2 separate regions of the Homo sapiens genome follow, and region 2 is linked to region 1. The links come from fine-mapping of genetic effects on plasma protein levels. A gene starts in region 1. The other region holds a variant in brackets. All regions are shown on one strand. Distances are from middle to middle.

Region 1 (8,278 bases):
AGACAGCCAGACAGCCCAGCGCCACACCCTGGGCCTGGCAGTTAAAGATTGACCCCTGACCTAATCGGTTATTTGTATAAAAAAGCACTGTGAAGATCCCTGTCCTGTTCTGTTCCCTTCTAATTACCGGTGTATGCATCCCCCAGTCACGTACCCGCTGCTTGCTCAATCGATCACGACGCTCTCACGCGGACCCCCTTAGAGTTGTGAGCCCTTAAAAGGGATAGGAATTGCTCACTCAGGGAGCTCAGCTCTTGAGACAGGAGTCTTGCCGATGCTCCCAGCTGAATAAACCCCTTCCTTCTTTAACTCAGCATCTGAGGGGTTTTGTCTGAGGCTCTTCCTGCTACATTTCCCACAAAAAAGGGAATCCCTGAAGCCAGAGAGGAGGTGGACTGAAGCACTGGGGATCCAGGCTGGGACAACTGCCTCCTCACTGGCTGTGGTCCTGTACTCTGGTCAGCCAAGGAGGAGGAAGAGAGGAGGAAGCTTCAGCACCCCGACCTCAGAGAGCGTCTCCTTAGATTTTGTACCTTTCACACAAACACTGAGACTTAGCTAAGGTGCCAGGAGAGATTCGAACTAAGGAGGCTGTATTCTGAGTCCCAGTTCCAGCTCTGACTTACCAGTGATCTTGCAGGACTTCTTAATGCTATACTTAGGATCCCTGCCCAATGACTAGTTTTTTTTTTTAGATGGAGTCTCGCTCTGTCACCAGGCTGGAGTGCAGTGGCGCAATCTTGGCTCACTGTAACCTCTGCCTCTCGGGTTCAAGCGATTCTCCTGCCTCAGCCTCCTGAATAGCTGGGACTACAGGCGCCTGCCACCACGCCCAGCTAATTTTTGTATTTTTAGTAGAGATGGGGTTTCACCATGTTGGCCAGGATGGTCTCGATCTCTTGACCTCGTGATCCGCCTGCCTCGGCCTCCCAAAGTGCTGGGATTACAGGTGTGAGCCACCGCACCCGGCCCCCAATGACTAGATTTGAATCCATCTCTTGGGGCCTTATTTTGGGTTCCAGGTCCTGGGATGGGAGAAGCAATCCCCCAAAGCCAGAGGGTGGAGAGGGACAAAGCAGTGATTCCAATACATCTGGTCTCGGGTCATCCCAGCAGGCCAAGCTGTCCTCAGGTGGTATCTTTTCAAGCAACTGCAAACACTCAACTTCCTCCAGAGAGTGGGCAGGCAGGATATATAGGCAAATGCTGTTTTTCACCATGATGGGAAACGGTAGGATGATTCCTTATTTTAGAATCTGGGAGGGCTTTGGGATGGCTAGACTCATAGAAGGGGGCAAAAGAACTTGTCCTGGAGCTGTTTTTCTTTCTTTCTTTCTTTTTTCTTTTTTTTTTTTTTTGAGATGGAGTTTCGCCCTTTTGCCCAGGCTGGAGTGCAGTGGCTCCATCTCAGCTCACTGCAATCTCCACCTTCCGGTTTCAGGCGATTCTCCTGCCTCAGCCACCCAAGTAGCTGGGATTACAGGCCCCTGCCACCACGCCCGGCTAATCTTTGTTGGCCAGGCTGGTCCCGAACTCCTGACCTCGTGATCCTCCCACTTCAGCCTCCCAAAGTGCTGGGATTACAGGCGGGAGCCACTGCGCCCTGCCCTGGAGCTGTTTTTCTAACAAGCACTCAGAAGCACCTCCCTCCCCACCCTCCTCCAAGCCTGGACCCACCGTATGTCTTCCCGTTTGGTCTACAGAAAGGATTCTGGGAGATAGCAGGATTCTAGGTGGAGGAAACTTTTTATTTGGCTGACACTCTGAGGGGATGGGGGGACAGGGATGGGGAAAATTAATGAGCCAGACCAGGATGGATTCCTTTGGGTAGCTCTAATCTTTCGTGCCCACCTCAGCCCCAGCAGGCAGCATTTCTCAAATCCTAGCTTTCGGCGACCCTCCGGCCGCTGGGGGAAGGAGGGGTGACAACCCCACCTCCTCCTGGCTCTGGCTGCTAGGAAGCTCTTCCCTGAGTTACCAATTCCTCCGCTGGCCCCTTCTCCCATGACCTCTGACGGGGCATCCAAAACTCAGAGCCAGGTTATTTATAGATAAGCCCAGAGGAGGTGGGGGAAAGGCCAGTGTTTACAAACATGGGTCACCTGAGTCTGAGCGGCCACGAGAGCGGTCTGGGGGAGGGGCGAGACCGGACCCTGTGGATCTGCGACCAAGGGCTCTGTCTCTGGCCCAACCCCACTGAAGGCGAATGGGGAGAGGGCCCAGAGCAGGCAGGGAGTGGGCGCTGCTCAGATGCTGGAGCACGTGGCCCAGGGTGTGGGCCAAATGCAAACTGTATGCAAATCGCAGTGCTCCGGGGGCGACCTCTCGGCCGGCGGGACCCCCGCGGGGCCCCTGGCCTGGTGGGCCGGGGACCAGGGGCCGACCGGGTCAGGGCCCGCCTGAGGGAGAGGCCGAGTCTCACAAGTTTCCTCCCCATCACTCACAGCCAAAGAGGGTCCCGCAGAAAGACCCCGCAGGCCTTGAGAAAGGGAATTGCTCCTCAGTCCCTGCCCTGGCGCGCCCGCTCCCGGCCCCGCGTGCGGCGCTGGGAAAGGGGTGTCGGGTTACCAGCGCGGGGGCTACAGTTAGCCTCGAGAACCTTTGCTTTCAGCCGGACTCCGGACTCCTCCGGGGACAGCGCAGCGCCCGCCAGAGCCCTCGGCGCTCCCTCCCGCTGGCGGCTTCCGCAGCCTTCAAGTGGGTCCTCCGCCCCCGGCCCTCCCCTCTCAGGCGGAGCCAAACTGCGGCCCCGCCTTTACAGTCTCGGAAAGGTCCCCAGACTGGAGGCTCTGAGGAAGGGGTGTGGGGAGTCGGGGGCGGAGACTTGGGGCGGGGGGCGGGCAATAAACTCCCAGGCCCCGCCCACGCCCCGCCGGGGCCCTAATCCTGGACCCGGGATCCCGTGCGCCTGGAGACAGGGTCCAGATCTGCCTCCAGCCCCTCGAAACCAGGACTCCAGCACCTCTGGTCCCGCCCTCACCCGGACCCCTGGCCCTCACGTCTCCTCCAGGGATGGCGCTGGCGGCTTTGATGATCGCCCTCGGCAGCCTCGGCCTCCACACCTGGCAGGTAACTCCAGGAACCATCTCCTAGCCCCAAGGGGGACATTAAGGGACAGACCCTGAGGAAGTGGACCCGGGGCTGACTCCTCACATCCCTCTCCCAGGGACTCTTCCCTAGGATTCCACTCTTAACTCTCTTCCTCTCAGGAACCTCCATCTCTGCAGGGAGCCCCAAGTTCCCATTCTGTCTCCTAGAACCCCCATCTCCATCCCTCTCTGGATGCCTCCAACGTTCTCCTCCCCACCTCTCATCTCCCAGCGCAGGCACAGCCCGGCAAAGCCTCCTTGGGTTACCTGTGTGCTGCAGTCCTGGCAGCCCGTCCCAACCAAGGCTTGGCCTCCCCACCACCCCTACCCCAAATGTGGGTACAGAGCAGGGGAGGACTCAGGCGTCTCAGAGCTCACAGTGATTTGGTGTGGTGGCTGAGCACCTACCTGCAAGGGCTTCCTGCTGGATGAGAGGGAAAGAGAGCCCGAGGAGAATGGGGCTGGGGGTTAGGCAGCTGGACACTGGCTGTGTGTAATATTTGCACATCACCTGCCTGCCAGATCTTACAGCCGGAAAAGTGCTTGATAGTCATCTAGTCCCACCTCCCACCGACTGCAAGAACCTTTCTAATGACAGGATGACCCCTTTTAGGTTGTACAGAAGTAATGCTCTTTATGCTGTCTTCATAATAACTGTGAGGTTGGAAGTATCCTCAAGTCCAGAAAAGTTATGACACTTGCCCAAGGCCTCACAGCTAATAGGTGGTAAAGTCAAGATTTCAGCCTGCGCGCGGTGGCTCACTCCTGTAATCCCAGCACTTTGGGAGGCTGAGGCTGGTGGATCACTTGAGGTCAGGAGTTCGAGACCAGCCTGACCAACATGGTGAAACCCTGTCTCTACTAAAAATACAAAAAATTAGCTGGGCGTGGTATTGCGCACCTGTAATCCTAGCTACTTGGGAGGCTGAGAGAGGAGAATTGCTTGAACCCGGGAGGCAGAGGTTGCAGTGAGCCAAGATCGTGCCATTGTACTCCGGCCTGGGCAACAGAGCGAGACTTCGTCTCAAAGAAACAAACACAAAAACAAATTAGCCAGGCATGGTGGCATGCACAGGTAATCCCAGTTAGTTGGGAGGCTGAGGTGGGAGAATCACTCCAACCTGGGAGGTGGCGCTTGCAGTGAGCCGAGATCTCACCACTGCACTCCAGCCTGGGCAACAGAGCAAGACTCCATCAAAAAAAAAAAAAAAAAAAAAAGATTTCAGTCCATGTCTGACTGACTCCAGTGCCTGTGTTATTTAAGCCTCTTATTGGGCCCTTGCCAAATTGCATATACCTGATATTTAGGGATAGAAATGAGATTCTGTGTTTCTGGATGGGTTTGCCCCCAGGACCCATGTCCAGTGCTCTGAACTTATGCTCTTTTCGGTGTGGCACCTCTTTTGCTCCACAGGCCCAGGCTGTTCCCATCCTGCCCCTGGGCCTGGCTCCAGACACCTTTGACGATACCTATGTGGGTTGTGCAGAGGAGATGGAGGAGAAGGCAGCCCCCCTGCTAAAGGAGGAAATGGCCCACCATGCCCTGCTGCGGGAATCCTGGGAGGCAGCCCAGGAGACCTGGGAGGACAAGCGTCGAGGGCTTACCTTGCCCCCTGGCTTCAAAGCCCAGAATGGAATAGCCATTATGGTCTACACCAACTCATCGAACACCTTGTACTGGGAGTTGAATCAGGCCGTGCGGACGGGCGGAGGCTCCCGGGAGCTCTACATGAGGCACTTTCCCTTCAAGGCCCTGCATTTCTACCTGATCCGGGCCCTGCAGCTGCTGCGAGGCAGTGGGGGCTGCAGCAGGGGACCTGGGGAGGTGGTGTTCCGAGGTGTGGGCAGCCTTCGCTTTGAACCCAAGAGGCTGGGAGACTCTGTCCGCTTGGGCCAGTTTGCCTCCAGCTCCCTGGATAAGGCAGTGGCCCACAGATTTGGTAATGCCACCCTCTTCTCTCTAACAACTTGCTTTGGGGCCCCTATACAGGCCTTCTCTGTCTTTCCCAAGGAGCGCGAGGTGCTGATTCCCCCCCATGAAGTCTTTTTGGTTACCAGATTCTCTCAGGATGGAGCCCAGAGCTTGGTGACTCTCTGGAGCTATAATCAGACCTGTAGCCATTTTAACTGCGCCTATCTGGGTGGTAAGCTGTGCATGGGGGAAGCAGGACTGGCAGTGTGGGTGAAATAAGCCAGGATGTCCTTACACAATAATCCCCGGGGCCTTCGGGAGACCCACTTGGTTAAAGGGGAAATGAGGGCTGGAAGTCAGCTGGAGTTGCTGTCCTCTGTGACTCAGGTTTTTTGGGGTCCTATAAGTGTTTTCTAGATTCGTGAACATTCTTAGATGATTCTATATGTCCTCAAAAGGGTCCATCTGCTACATGGTCTAATAGACCAAAAGAACCTGGTTAAGGAGATTAGCAAGCAGCAGAAAGAGCCAAGGGGACTGCTTCAGGTCTCAGGGGGGCCCTGGGCTCGATGGGGCTGACAGGGCACGTATGTGCCATTCCCAAGTGCTAAGGCAGGGAGAGATGGAAGAGTGACTGGGTCTTGGGTGGGAAGAGGGATGGAAAGGCAATCTGGAAAGAGTTCCTGGAGGACGGAGGAGGAAGGGAAATCAGAAGTTTCCCTTTAGGTGAAGGGAAAGATAGATTGAGAAGGGAAATGGCCCTGCCAGGGCCTGGTGGGCCAGGCAGTTTGGGTGCGAGTCTGTCCACGCGGAGGCCTCACCCTGCTGTCTGTTGCAGGGGAGAAGAGGCGGGGCTGTGTGTCTGCGCCAGGTGAGTTGCCCTTCCATCCTCCTTCAGCTGCTTTGACTCCCCCTCACCCTGCTGACCCCTTCCTCCTCTTTTCCCTTCAGCAGGGGTGCAGCTAGGGTCACAATCTGAGGGGGCCTCCTCTCTGCCCCCCTGGAAGACTCTGCTCTTGGCCCCTGGAGAGTTCCAGCTCTCAGGGGTTGGGCCCTGAAAGTCCAACATCTGCCACTTAGGAGCCCTGGGAACGGGTGACCTTCATATGACGAAGAGGCACCTCCAGCAGCCTTGAGAAGCAAGAACATGGTTCCGGACCCAGCCCTAGCAGCCTTCTCCCCAACCAGGATGTTGGCCTGGGGAGGCCACAGCAGGGCTGAGGGAACTCTGCTATGTGATGGGGACTTCCTGGGACAAGCAAGGAAAGTACTGAGGCAGCCACTTGATTGAACGGTGTTGCAATGTGGAGACATGGAGTTTTATTGAGGTAGCTACGTGATTAAATGGTATTGCAGTGTGGAGACATGGAATTTTATGATTGGTTTATTCCATGAGACTAGACCTTCTGCCCCGCTGTGGCCTTGCTGGGCTGAGGGACTGACTGAGGGACTAAAAAAAAAAACTTCTTGGGGCCAGGAGCAGGTGGCTCACGCCTGTAATCCCAGCACTTTGGGAGGCTGAGGTGGGTGGATCACGAGGTCAGGAGATCGAGACCAGTCTGGCTAACACGGTGAAACCCCGTCTTTACTAAAAATACAAAAAAATTAGCCGAGCGTGGTGGCGGGCACCTGTAGTCCCAGCTACTTGGGAGGCTGAGGCAGGAGAATGATGTGAACCCGGGAGGCGGAGCTTGCAATGAGCCGAGATCGCGCCACTGCACTCCAGCCTGGGCGACAGAGCAAGACTCCGTCTCAAAAATAACAATAATAATAACTTCTTGTTATTATTAACACGGTCTCCTGTGCAGACCTGTGTAACACTCTAACTTGCAAATCCAGAAGCTAGAACAGCTAGAGGGTCCTCACGACAACCATGAAGGCAGGAAAGCAGGCAGGTGATTCCTCAGCCCCACTTGTCAGGTGAGGAATGCAAAGCCAAGGAAGGAAGCAACTGGTCAGAGGGTTCCCATTGAACCCCGGCCTCCCGCCTCCCCGGTCTCCTGCCTCCTGGTCCAGAACTCTGTCCATAAAAGATCTGAGGAAACTCAAAGTAGGATCCCAAGCCCAAGATACTTGGGAACACAGAGCAAGTCATTTCTCTCTGCCCTGCTCCCACAAGGGTCCATTTCAGGGGAAAGAAGAGGGAGGACCTCAAAACATCAAGAGACAGAGATTCTCACACAGCCTGGAGGCCTCTCACATCCAGAGCAGAAACTTTATTGAAGCAAGAAAAGCAGCACAGGCTCCTCCCAAGGGGCCCCCCACCCTCACCCTCCTAGGCTACCACGCTCAGCAACAGAAGAAGGGACTCTTCCACTGTATCAGGACCTCCTCTCAGTCCCCGAATCCTCCCCCTGGGGCAGGTCCCCAGCCCCCTCTGCTTCCTGCTCCCTATGAACTAGCACATGAGCTGGGGAGCAGGGGCCAGACTCTCCGGAAGCCAGAGTCCTCACCCCTCCAGTGTCCTGAAGCCCGGTTCCTGATGATTCCTGGGTCCTCACAATCCCAGGCCCTGTCAGCTCTGGGGTCTCAGGGATGGGAGGCCCCAGGTTCTGGAAGCTGTTGTGCACTTGAGTGATGTAGTGACTGAGGACGCTGGCACCGTCGGGAGGCCGGGGCGTCCCTCCCTCTGCCAGAGTTCACCGCACACCGGCTACCTCGCTTTGCAGTCGAGATATGGTCTTGGTCAGCTCTGTGAGTCTGTTGCCCAGATCTGGAGGAGGTGGAGTACCAAGGGGCCTTTCAGAGGATGAGCCTGCCCTATACCCCTTTTACCCTTTACAGTACCCCAGGGGTTGCCCTATCCAGGATTCCTGAGGGAGAACTGGAAGAAGTGAGGAACGGGTTTGTGGGCTAGGGGTCAGGTGGGTGGGTGAAGCTGGGGCAGGTGAATCTGATCGGGGGTGGGAGGGAGTAGCTGAGGAGCTGGAAAGAAGGAAAGTCTGGGGGCCAGAGAAAGATGACAAGCCACGGGGAAAGCTTACTGGACTGCGTAGACATTTGTGCGTTCACCTGCCTGCCCTCTCCCGAGTCTACGGCCAGCCAGCTCACCCCATCCTTCAGGGCCCAGTTCAGATCCCACCCCCTTTGTCCCTTCTGCTACTCTATCCTTCTGCCTTCTCATGAGCCTCTCAAAATGACGTGCTCCTTCTCCCTTCAGGCGCCCATGGCAATTCGCGTCTCTCTTAGCTGCACTTCATGCCCGCTGTGATGGTTTCTCTTCCTCACCAGACTGAAAGCTTCCCGTGTGTCCCTGCCCTACAGTGCCCCGTCTCTC
Region 2 (8,320 bases), 23 kb after region 1:
TCCTGTGTACTTTTGACAAAAAGAGCATTGCCCTTCCCTGTGCCTCAGGTTGCTCCCCTGTACCACTGAAGCAGAATGCCTTCCTCAGGGCTACACTTGCAGCTACTTAATGGAAACATTCACACAAAGTTATATTCACCAAGTGTCTAGCCCAGGGCCTCATAAAACAAGTGCTCAATAAGTGACAGTTATCATTAATCTTATTCTTAGTACCTGGGACTTTGGTGTCAGCCAGTAGCCAAGGCAGAGGAAGGGCATGGTGAGGAAGATGAGGAAGGTAGCAAAGAGCTTCCAGCTGGTGGTGCTTCCCCGCCAACCAGCCAGGTTCCCACACTAGATGGAGGACAGGACTTGCTGGCAGATGAGGTGTGCTACGAACTAAGCAGAGATGGGGCATAAGCAGAGTGGGAGGCCACCAGGCAAGGATGAGGATGGGGGAGCCAGTTGGGTACACAGCCCTTCCTTCCCTGCCACAGAGGTCGAACAATCCTTCTTTTCTCCCCACACCAGCCAACTCGCTTGTCAGATGACCGTGGTCAGACCCATCTCTCTCTAGGCCTCGGTCTATGGAGGGGAAACTGAACTCAAAGATTTTCCTGAACTCTCTGGACCCTACATTCTTGAGTCTAAGTTAATCAGTGGTGGGTAGAACTGGGGACCCAAGACCCAGAACCCCCAGGGTCCCCTGCCTTCTTAGAGGTGTGGGACATCAGCCTGGATGATCTTGAGGAGGGCAGAAGAGGGAAGCTGGGGTTTGCTGTACTGGGAGACAGGGCCAGGGGAGCCATTATGAAGGAAGGTTTTTGGTTAAGTTCCTGGTGGATGTTGAGGGTGGATGAGAGTGAGGAGCAAGGAGCTGGGGGAGGCTAAACAAGGAGCCTGTCTTTAGCTTAGAGGGGAGGATGTCTGAGGAGACAGGGAATAATAGAACCTTTTGGGGGATATTTAAGGCCTGAGAGATCTAGTCTTATCTTGCTTTATAGAGTGATGTACTGAAACTGAACAACAGAAAGACTGGATTGAAGTAACTCAGCAGGTCAGAGACAAAGCTGTCTAAGACCAGATGTCCTGGTCTGAAGGTGAGGTCTTGGTGGGTAATGGGTCTTCCAAGGGCTGGGGAGAGGTTAGGGGCTTAGATTGAATGTAAGAAGGGAGGGGACCCACAGGGTCAAGGGCTTAGACAGAAGGGTGCTCAGGACCAAGGCCTGAGAGGGTCTCGAGGGCAGGAAAAGGAGTTGCTTAGGGCTGGTCAGGGAGACCTAGAGGTGGCAGGGCAAGAGAAAAGGACAGGGAGGGGATATAGGTGGGGCCCAGCTGACCCGCTTCTGGTTGTAGTTGACAGCCAGTCGCAGCCTCACCAGGTTGGGGATGCCTTCCTCAAAGGCCAGGCCCAGGCCTTCAGCCTCGGGCTCAGTCTCGCTGTCCTCGGCCAGGTCGTTGAGCACTGCAGTGACCTCACTCTGGTTCCAGCACATGCCCAGCAGCTGAAAGCCATAGTCCTGGCTCAGTGACTCCAGAGCAATGTACTCAGGCTGTAGAGAAGCAGGTCCGTGTATGCCTACCACCCTGTGGATCCAACCCCATTAAATCAGCCCACTCCTTCCTACCCACACGCCCACCAGTAGTGGGCCTGGGCCACCTCTGTCCTGCCCCTGCACCATCAGTTCCTATGTCTGGTGTCACTAGGGCATTGATTTCTTTTTCCTTTGCCACCTCACCCATCCTTCTTTGTTTTTTTGTTTTTTTTGAGACGGAGTCTCGCTCTGTCGCCCAGGCTGGAGTGCAGTGCTGCAATCTCAGCTCACTGCAAACTCCGCCTCCCGGGTTCAAGCCATTCTCCTTGCCTCAGCCTCCTGAGTAGCTGGGACTACAGGTGCCCGCCACATGCCCGGCTAATTTTTTTGTATTTTTAGTAGAGACGGGTTTTCACCATGTTAGCCAGGATGGTCTCAATCTCCTGACCTCATGATCCGCCCGCCTCGGCCTCCCAAAGTGCTGGGATCACAAGCGTGAGCCACCGCACCCGGCCTCATCCTTCCTGCTCTAATGAGATACCTCCTGGGTCACTTCGCTTATCTAGTGCTATTGCTACCTCATCACTAAGTCACTTCAACCCAAACCCTTCTGTCATTTTTTCTGTCTCTTTTCCTTCCCCTTCTAATCTGTTTCTTGTCCCACTTTTACTTCTACTCCTTACACCCTTCATGTGCTCATTTAATTAATTTATTGGAACACCTACCTTATATGAGAACCTGCGTTGGCAATTTTAGGAGATGCAGAAATGAATAAGGCAGTTCTTATTAATTATTATTATTATTATTATTTGAGACGAGTTTCACTCTTGTCACCCAGGCTGGAGTGCAATTGCGCGATCTTGGCTCACTGCAACCTCCGCCTCCTGGGTTCAAGCGATTCTCCTGCCTCAGCCTCCTGAGTAGGGGAGATTAAAGGTGTGCGCCACCATGCTCAGCTAATAATTTTTTTGTATTATTAGTATAGATGGGGTTTCACCATGTTGGCCAGGCTAGGCTAGTCTGGAACTCCTGACCTTAGGTGATCCACCTGCCTCAGCCTCCCAAAGTACTGGGATTATAGGCGTGAGCCACCGCGCCCGGCCACTTATTTATTATTTTTAAAAAATAGCTGGGCATGGTGGCTCATGCCTGTAATCCCAGCACTTTGGGAGGCTGAGGCGGGCAGATCACCTAAGGTCAGGAGTTCAAGACCAGCCTGGCTAACATGGTGAAACCTTGTCTCTACTAATAACACAAAAATTAGCTGGGCGTGGTGGCAGGCATGTAATCCCAGCTACTCGGGAGGCTGAGGCAGGACAATCGTTTGAACCCAGGAGGTAGAGGTTGCAGTGAGCTGAGATGGCGCCACTGCACTCTAGCCTGGGTAACAAGAGTGAAACTCTGTCTCCAAAAAATTAAAAAAATAAATAAATAGAGATGAGATTTTGCTATGTTGCCCAGGCTGGTCTCGAACTCCTGGCCTCCTCATCCTCCTGTCTCAGCCTCCCAAAGTGCTGGGGTTAGAGGCGTGAGTCACTGTGCCTGGCCTAAGGCGGTCCTTGGCTCCAATTTATCCATCCTATCCTGGGTTTTACTTGAGGCCCTCACCCTAGAGAGCATCCAGGGACAGCTTTCAGGAGGTGAGGTCTGAGTCCCAGCACTGTCCTCAGGTGGTATCACATTGGGCAAGGTACTTCCCCTTCCCAGGCCTCAGCTTCTCTGCTGTAAAGTGGGGATGATACTTCCTGCTATGCCTGTCTCTTAGGCTGCTGTGAGAACGGAGGGAAAGTCCTTTGGAAAGGACTGCCCTTTCCTGCTAGCTGTGCAGTGGGGGCTTTTCATTCTCCTATCCTTCCACCACCATCAGTCACAACTTCCTTAGCCCTCCATTTTAACATCCATGTTGGTTTCCCCACCTAATGGTCATCTTGGGGATGGGGATCGAGTCTAGCTTGACACACAGGAGCCGTCAGGGGATGAGGGATGGACAAACTGGACTGGCGGCATTCCAGGACCCTCACTAGTACCTGCCTCCAGGTTCTGCTTCGTGCATTCTCAGTCCTTCCTGCGCAGTGTCTCCCCTTCACTCATCACCGTGTATACTTCCTGAGAGCCTTTGCGTGGACTGCAGTCCTACCTCAAATACCCTCCCTGCTCCTCTTCACTTGTATGAAACCACCCACTTCTGTAGCTCAGCTTAATGCTACGTCTTCCAAGGAGTCCTCCCTGAACACAACAGCTATGGCTTTCCTGACCTGTTTTCTGGGCTTTGGAAGCCCTGTTAGCACCATTCACAGCGGCACCGAATGAAGACAAGCGTCCTGGAAGCACCTTGTCCCCTCTTTCTGCCTTCTCTCTGCTCTGATCATACGCTTGAGAGCCGCAACACACAATGCTCCGGGTGGGAACACCTAATAGGTATTCAGACGTAATGTATTCTACTGAACGTCATCTCTAAGTCTGTCCAGCTGTTTTTCTAGTTGTTTCTGTTCTCTCTCCTCCCTCAGAGACACTCAGGGCTCCCCTGGAGTGGGGGTTGTGCCTCCCGCATAAGACTAGGCCCCTCTGGAGTGGCTGTTCTCTGCCATTAGAATGAAATCCCCTCAGGGGGGATTCTGTGACTCCCCATCAAACTAGAGGTTTCCTGAGAACAGAGACCAGGCCTTGTCCTCTTTCTGTGGCTTCCAAGCTTT[C/T]CAGAACACTGACCACAGGCCCAACCATGCTCCGGTGGAAGAACAGACATGGGGCACCAGGGGAAGAGAGAAGTATGAGAAACCAACCTTAAATTCAGGCTCCTTGCGTGCAAGGCGCCTGAGCTCACGGCTAAGCTGGAAGGCAGCCAGCATGGCATCCTCACTGGCCAGTGAGAGGTGGGCCCTGCTGGCGATGCCAAGGTAGGTGTTGATGCGGGACAGAGAGAGTTTCAGCAGGTCATAGCGGCGGGCGTTGCTGCACTCGAGGCAGGCACAGGAGACCGGGTGGGGCCGGGCAATGGTGTGGCCCTGTTCCATGAGCAGCTGTGCTATCTCATACAGGTCCTTCTGGCAGGCCTGGGGGAGGGGAGTCACACCAGGTGCAAAGCGGGAGCCATCAATTGATGAGTCAAAGAAAGCCAGTGAGAAAGACCTGGTGTCTACTTTGCGACCCTTCTCCCGTTCCAGCCGGGCCGGCAGGCGACGCACCACTGCTGCTGGTTTGTGTCCACTGCCACTAGCAGGGCCTCATGGATCTGGCGGAAGTCAAACTTGACACTGGCCAACAGCACATCGGTGAGGGCCTCATGGCCCAGGCGGATGGCCAGGTTGAGTGCCTCCCTCCAGCAGCGGTCCTCAGCCTCTTCCACATTCCACAGGGGCCAGCCTGGCCCACTGCTCGCTTGTGGCCTCAACCTCTGACTCCAGCAGCTGCTGCACAAAGCCCAGTCGGCCCTCCTGGATGGCATCCAGGAGTGGAGGTGGGAAGCTGAGCTTCCTGTTCACGATCTCAGTCCAGTTAGGCTGTTGGCGGACGAAGGAGTGGAGAGGCTAGGACCCTGAGTTTCAACTCCCTTTGTTTTGGGGCCTCTTTCACCCTTCCATGTTCTAGCACTTAACCCTCTATATCCAGCCACCATTATATTCTTCCTTGTCCCAAACACACACTGGCAAATATTGTCTCATTCACCATTTTATTGTGTAGATTCTCAGGTTAGGAAAATTGACACTGTACAGTGGGGGCTTTCTATTCTTCCCCCACTGGGTAGAGACTGGGGGCCCCTTCCTCAGGTGGGTCTGACCGGGGGCCCCTTCCTCAGCTTGACTTCTACCCTCACAGGAGCCCCCCAACAGCAGAGCTACCTGTGGGTACCTTGAGCAAGGGTAGGTTAAAGCAGGGGTGGGCTGCCCTGGCAGCCTAACCCCACATACGGGTGCACAGGATCTGTTCCGACCCAGCTCCCCTCTTGTTGACTTCATCTCCCAGCTGCTCTTCCCTCTTAAAGTCCTAGAGCCTCTCCCACAGGCAGGCCCGGACATGTCCACACAGGAGGGTTTTGTGTGGGCTTTTGCCAAGCCCCTCCGCTCTGACCAGGGCCCCAGCAGGATCCCAACATACTCTTTCTTCACCAATCCTCCCGCTTTGCCCTCCCCTGCTTTGGGGGGCATTTCTCCCCCTTGGCACTGCCTCATCCCTCTCTTCTACCAGGCCCGGCCCCATCCTCACTGCTCTTCTCTTCTGGGCCCAAGCTCAGGGTTCCAAGGGCTCTTCTCCCACCTACATAGTGATGTCAGCCATCTGCTTGGCAGCTAGGATGCCCCTGCAGTGCCTCTGGGCCAATCTTTTCTTTTATTCATGGGTAGAAATGGGAGCAGAATGGGAGAAGGTAGGGGAGCAGGCTTCTTACCGTGATGGGGTCCATGGCTGTGCCCACCTATGCTGGCACCTGTGCTGACAGGAACCGAAGGACTGAACTCCTGCTCAGTCTTCTCCCTGACTGTGCCTAGCACCCTCTTTTCTATCTATTCAAAACTCTGACCTGGGCCCTCTCTTTGCAGGACCAGCTGCTCCCCCTCTGCTCTGTACCCTGGGGACCAGGGGAACCGGTGTTAGTGCCACACAGTGAAATCTTCTGGGAAAGGGAAGAGAAGACATATTTGCTCAAAGAAGGTGGGAACAGAATTTGGAATATCACAGCTTGAGGGAATCTTTGACACCTTCTGGTCCAATCACCTCCTTGTGTAGATAAGGAATGGGATATGCCCAAGGTTCCACAGTCAAGCCTAGTAACTACTCCTTAGTCATTAACCCATCTGGTCCCTATCATAGCTCTGTGAGCGGGAGGATGGGAGATTTTTTTCTCTCAGTTAATTCTGGATGCTAAAATAAATAACTTGCTTAGTGTCACACACATCACCATTACCTGATTATGCCCAGGACAGGAGCCCACAAAGGAGACTGAGAGCTCGGTTCATGGGTTGCTGGATGTCAGCCTCGTGCTCAAAATCCACACGCACATTCCCAGCACACCACAGGATTTTATCTGTCAGGCAGCGTTTGCTCTTCACTGGGCCTCGGTTTTCCTTTCAGGAAAATGGGCATGAGAATGTGCACCACTCACAGAGGGAAAGACATTCTGGATGGTGTCCCAAGGCCCAAAAGTTCCAAGGAGACTTCCAAGGGGGAAAAGAACAGAGCTGGCCTTAGGAGAATCAGGTGCCATGGTCACAGAAGCCTTGACAACTGGGAATGGGGATCAGGCTAGGCACAGAGGTGCCCTCAGGCAGAGTCCTGAGGGAATGAGTGGAGAGGAGGAGAGAGGGAGCTTTGGCCTCAGCGGCTCTTCTCAGCTGTCAAGCGATTCAGTCCCAGTCTGTCACAGAGGGTGGGGCAAAACCACAGGACCTCATGGCTCACGCCTGAGGGAAGTCCCCACATATGCTGGCATGCTCTTCTACTTCTCTTGCTGAGAACCGCAACTGGCAGATAGGGCACGGAACCCAGGAGACAGGGGGTGAACTTTCTGGGGAGGACACCCACAGTACAGACTGGGACGAAGATGATGATGAGGAGGGAGAAGCTGGGTGAGGTGGGGAGGTCTCTCCACAAGTGGCAGCATGCTGGGGAAGAATCTCAATCCTGAAGGAACCTATGGGGGAGAGAAGGAGGTAAACAAAACGGCCTGCTCCCAGGCAGGATGTCACCCCAAGAAGTCTGTATAAGCTGTGAAGACAAATAACACTGATACACAGCAGACAGTGAGAAGTGCTAAGTCCAAGGGAATCAGATAATCCTGCAGAAGCTCAGTTGCGGGAGATGATCTGGGCAGATAAGAGAACACTTGGCAAAGTAGAACCGTTTGAACAGAGACTGAAAGAGGAACCAGCATTTGGACACGTAGGAAAAAGTTACGAAGGAAATTCTAGGCCCTCTCCGATCGTGTTTTACATTGCTTGGTTTCATTCTTCTCCTGAGGGCAGGGCCCATGTCCCTTCCTCAGCTTAGCTGGCACACTGTGCTCAGTACACACTTGTCTTGAATTACACTTGACTAAAAATACAGTTCCACACCTGAGAGCTGCAGAGATGACAGAAGCCAGCACTCCAAATTCAAATGTTTCTTGGCAGTACCCCCAGATCTCCTATTCCTCCCTCAAGGAATGCCTAGTTGTCATACAACAACTCCCTGTGCCCAAGCATCTTACCTGCACAAATCGGGCACTGTCCACTATCCTGGCCACCACTGCTTTGGGCCTGGGGTCGGTGCTGTTTTTTTTTTGCCATGCTCTTGCTGTCTCCCTCCTGTTTGGCCAAGAATTAGAGTTGGATAAAGGCCTGTGAGAAAGAACAGTTAAAGACCAGCTATTAGTAAGAGGCCATAAGGGCTGAAGGAGCCTGAAATCAGAGCAAAAATAATGTAGAAGAGTTAACATAGACCTAGAAACCCTGGGTTGGGGTCCTGGTTTTCCCACCTGATATACCAGACTTGAGGGAAGACATTTAACCTTTGAACATCTGAGAACAGAGATTCTATTACTGCCCTTGGGTTATTATTTTTTAATTGAAATATAGTACACATACCATAAAACTCACTCTTTAAAAATATAAATTCAAGACCAGGCATGGTGGCTCACACCTGTAATCCCAGCACTCTGGGAGGCCGAGGCAGGCAGATCACCTGAGGTCAGGAGTTCGAGACCAGCCTGGCCAACATTTACCTGTCTCTACTAAAAATACAAAAATTAGTTGGGCGTGGTGGCGGGCACCTGTAATCCCAGCTACTCAAGAGGCTGAGGCAGGAGAATTGCTTGAATCCAGGAGGCAGAGGTTGCG

Alleles and levels. Positions count from the first base shown, and alleles are read on the strand shown. Strength reflects both the effect of a copy and how common the allele is.
As copies of T replace C in region 2, the plasma level of the protein whose gene starts at base 2,883 in region 1 goes up (weak association).

What was found. A credible set is the group of variants that fine-mapping cannot tell apart. PIP is the chance, under the fine-mapping model, that this variant and not a neighbour inherited with it causes the effect. Protein levels are from antibody-based Olink assays in UK Biobank. Linkage for the fine-mapping came from a reference panel and not from the study's own genotypes, which makes the PIPs less certain.
Region 2: its variant is the best candidate, but not a certain one, in a credible set for the plasma level of the ART5 protein (UK Biobank, PIP 0.71).

The regions. Positions count from the first base shown.
Region 1 is chr11:3,636,597-3,644,874 of GRCh38, reverse strand. ART5 (ADP-ribosyltransferase 5) reads left to right here and starts at 2,883. Exons shown (of 4, transcript NM_053017.5): 1 at 2,883-3,069; 2 at 4,504-5,233; 3 at 5,840-5,872; 4 at 6,082-6,363. The coding sequence starts at 3,013. The coding sequence ends at 6,137. It also overlaps the pseudogene TRPC2. RefSeq lists a silencer at 2,274-2,323 and an enhancer at 2,463-3,176.
Region 2 is chr11:3,613,399-3,621,718 of GRCh38, reverse strand. It overlaps the pseudogene XNDC1CP. Among named protein-coding and RNA genes, the nearest start is that of ART5, 24 kb to the left of the region's middle. RefSeq lists enhancers at 5,134-5,658, 5,659-6,183. The variant C/T (reference allele first, on the strand shown) is at 4,208.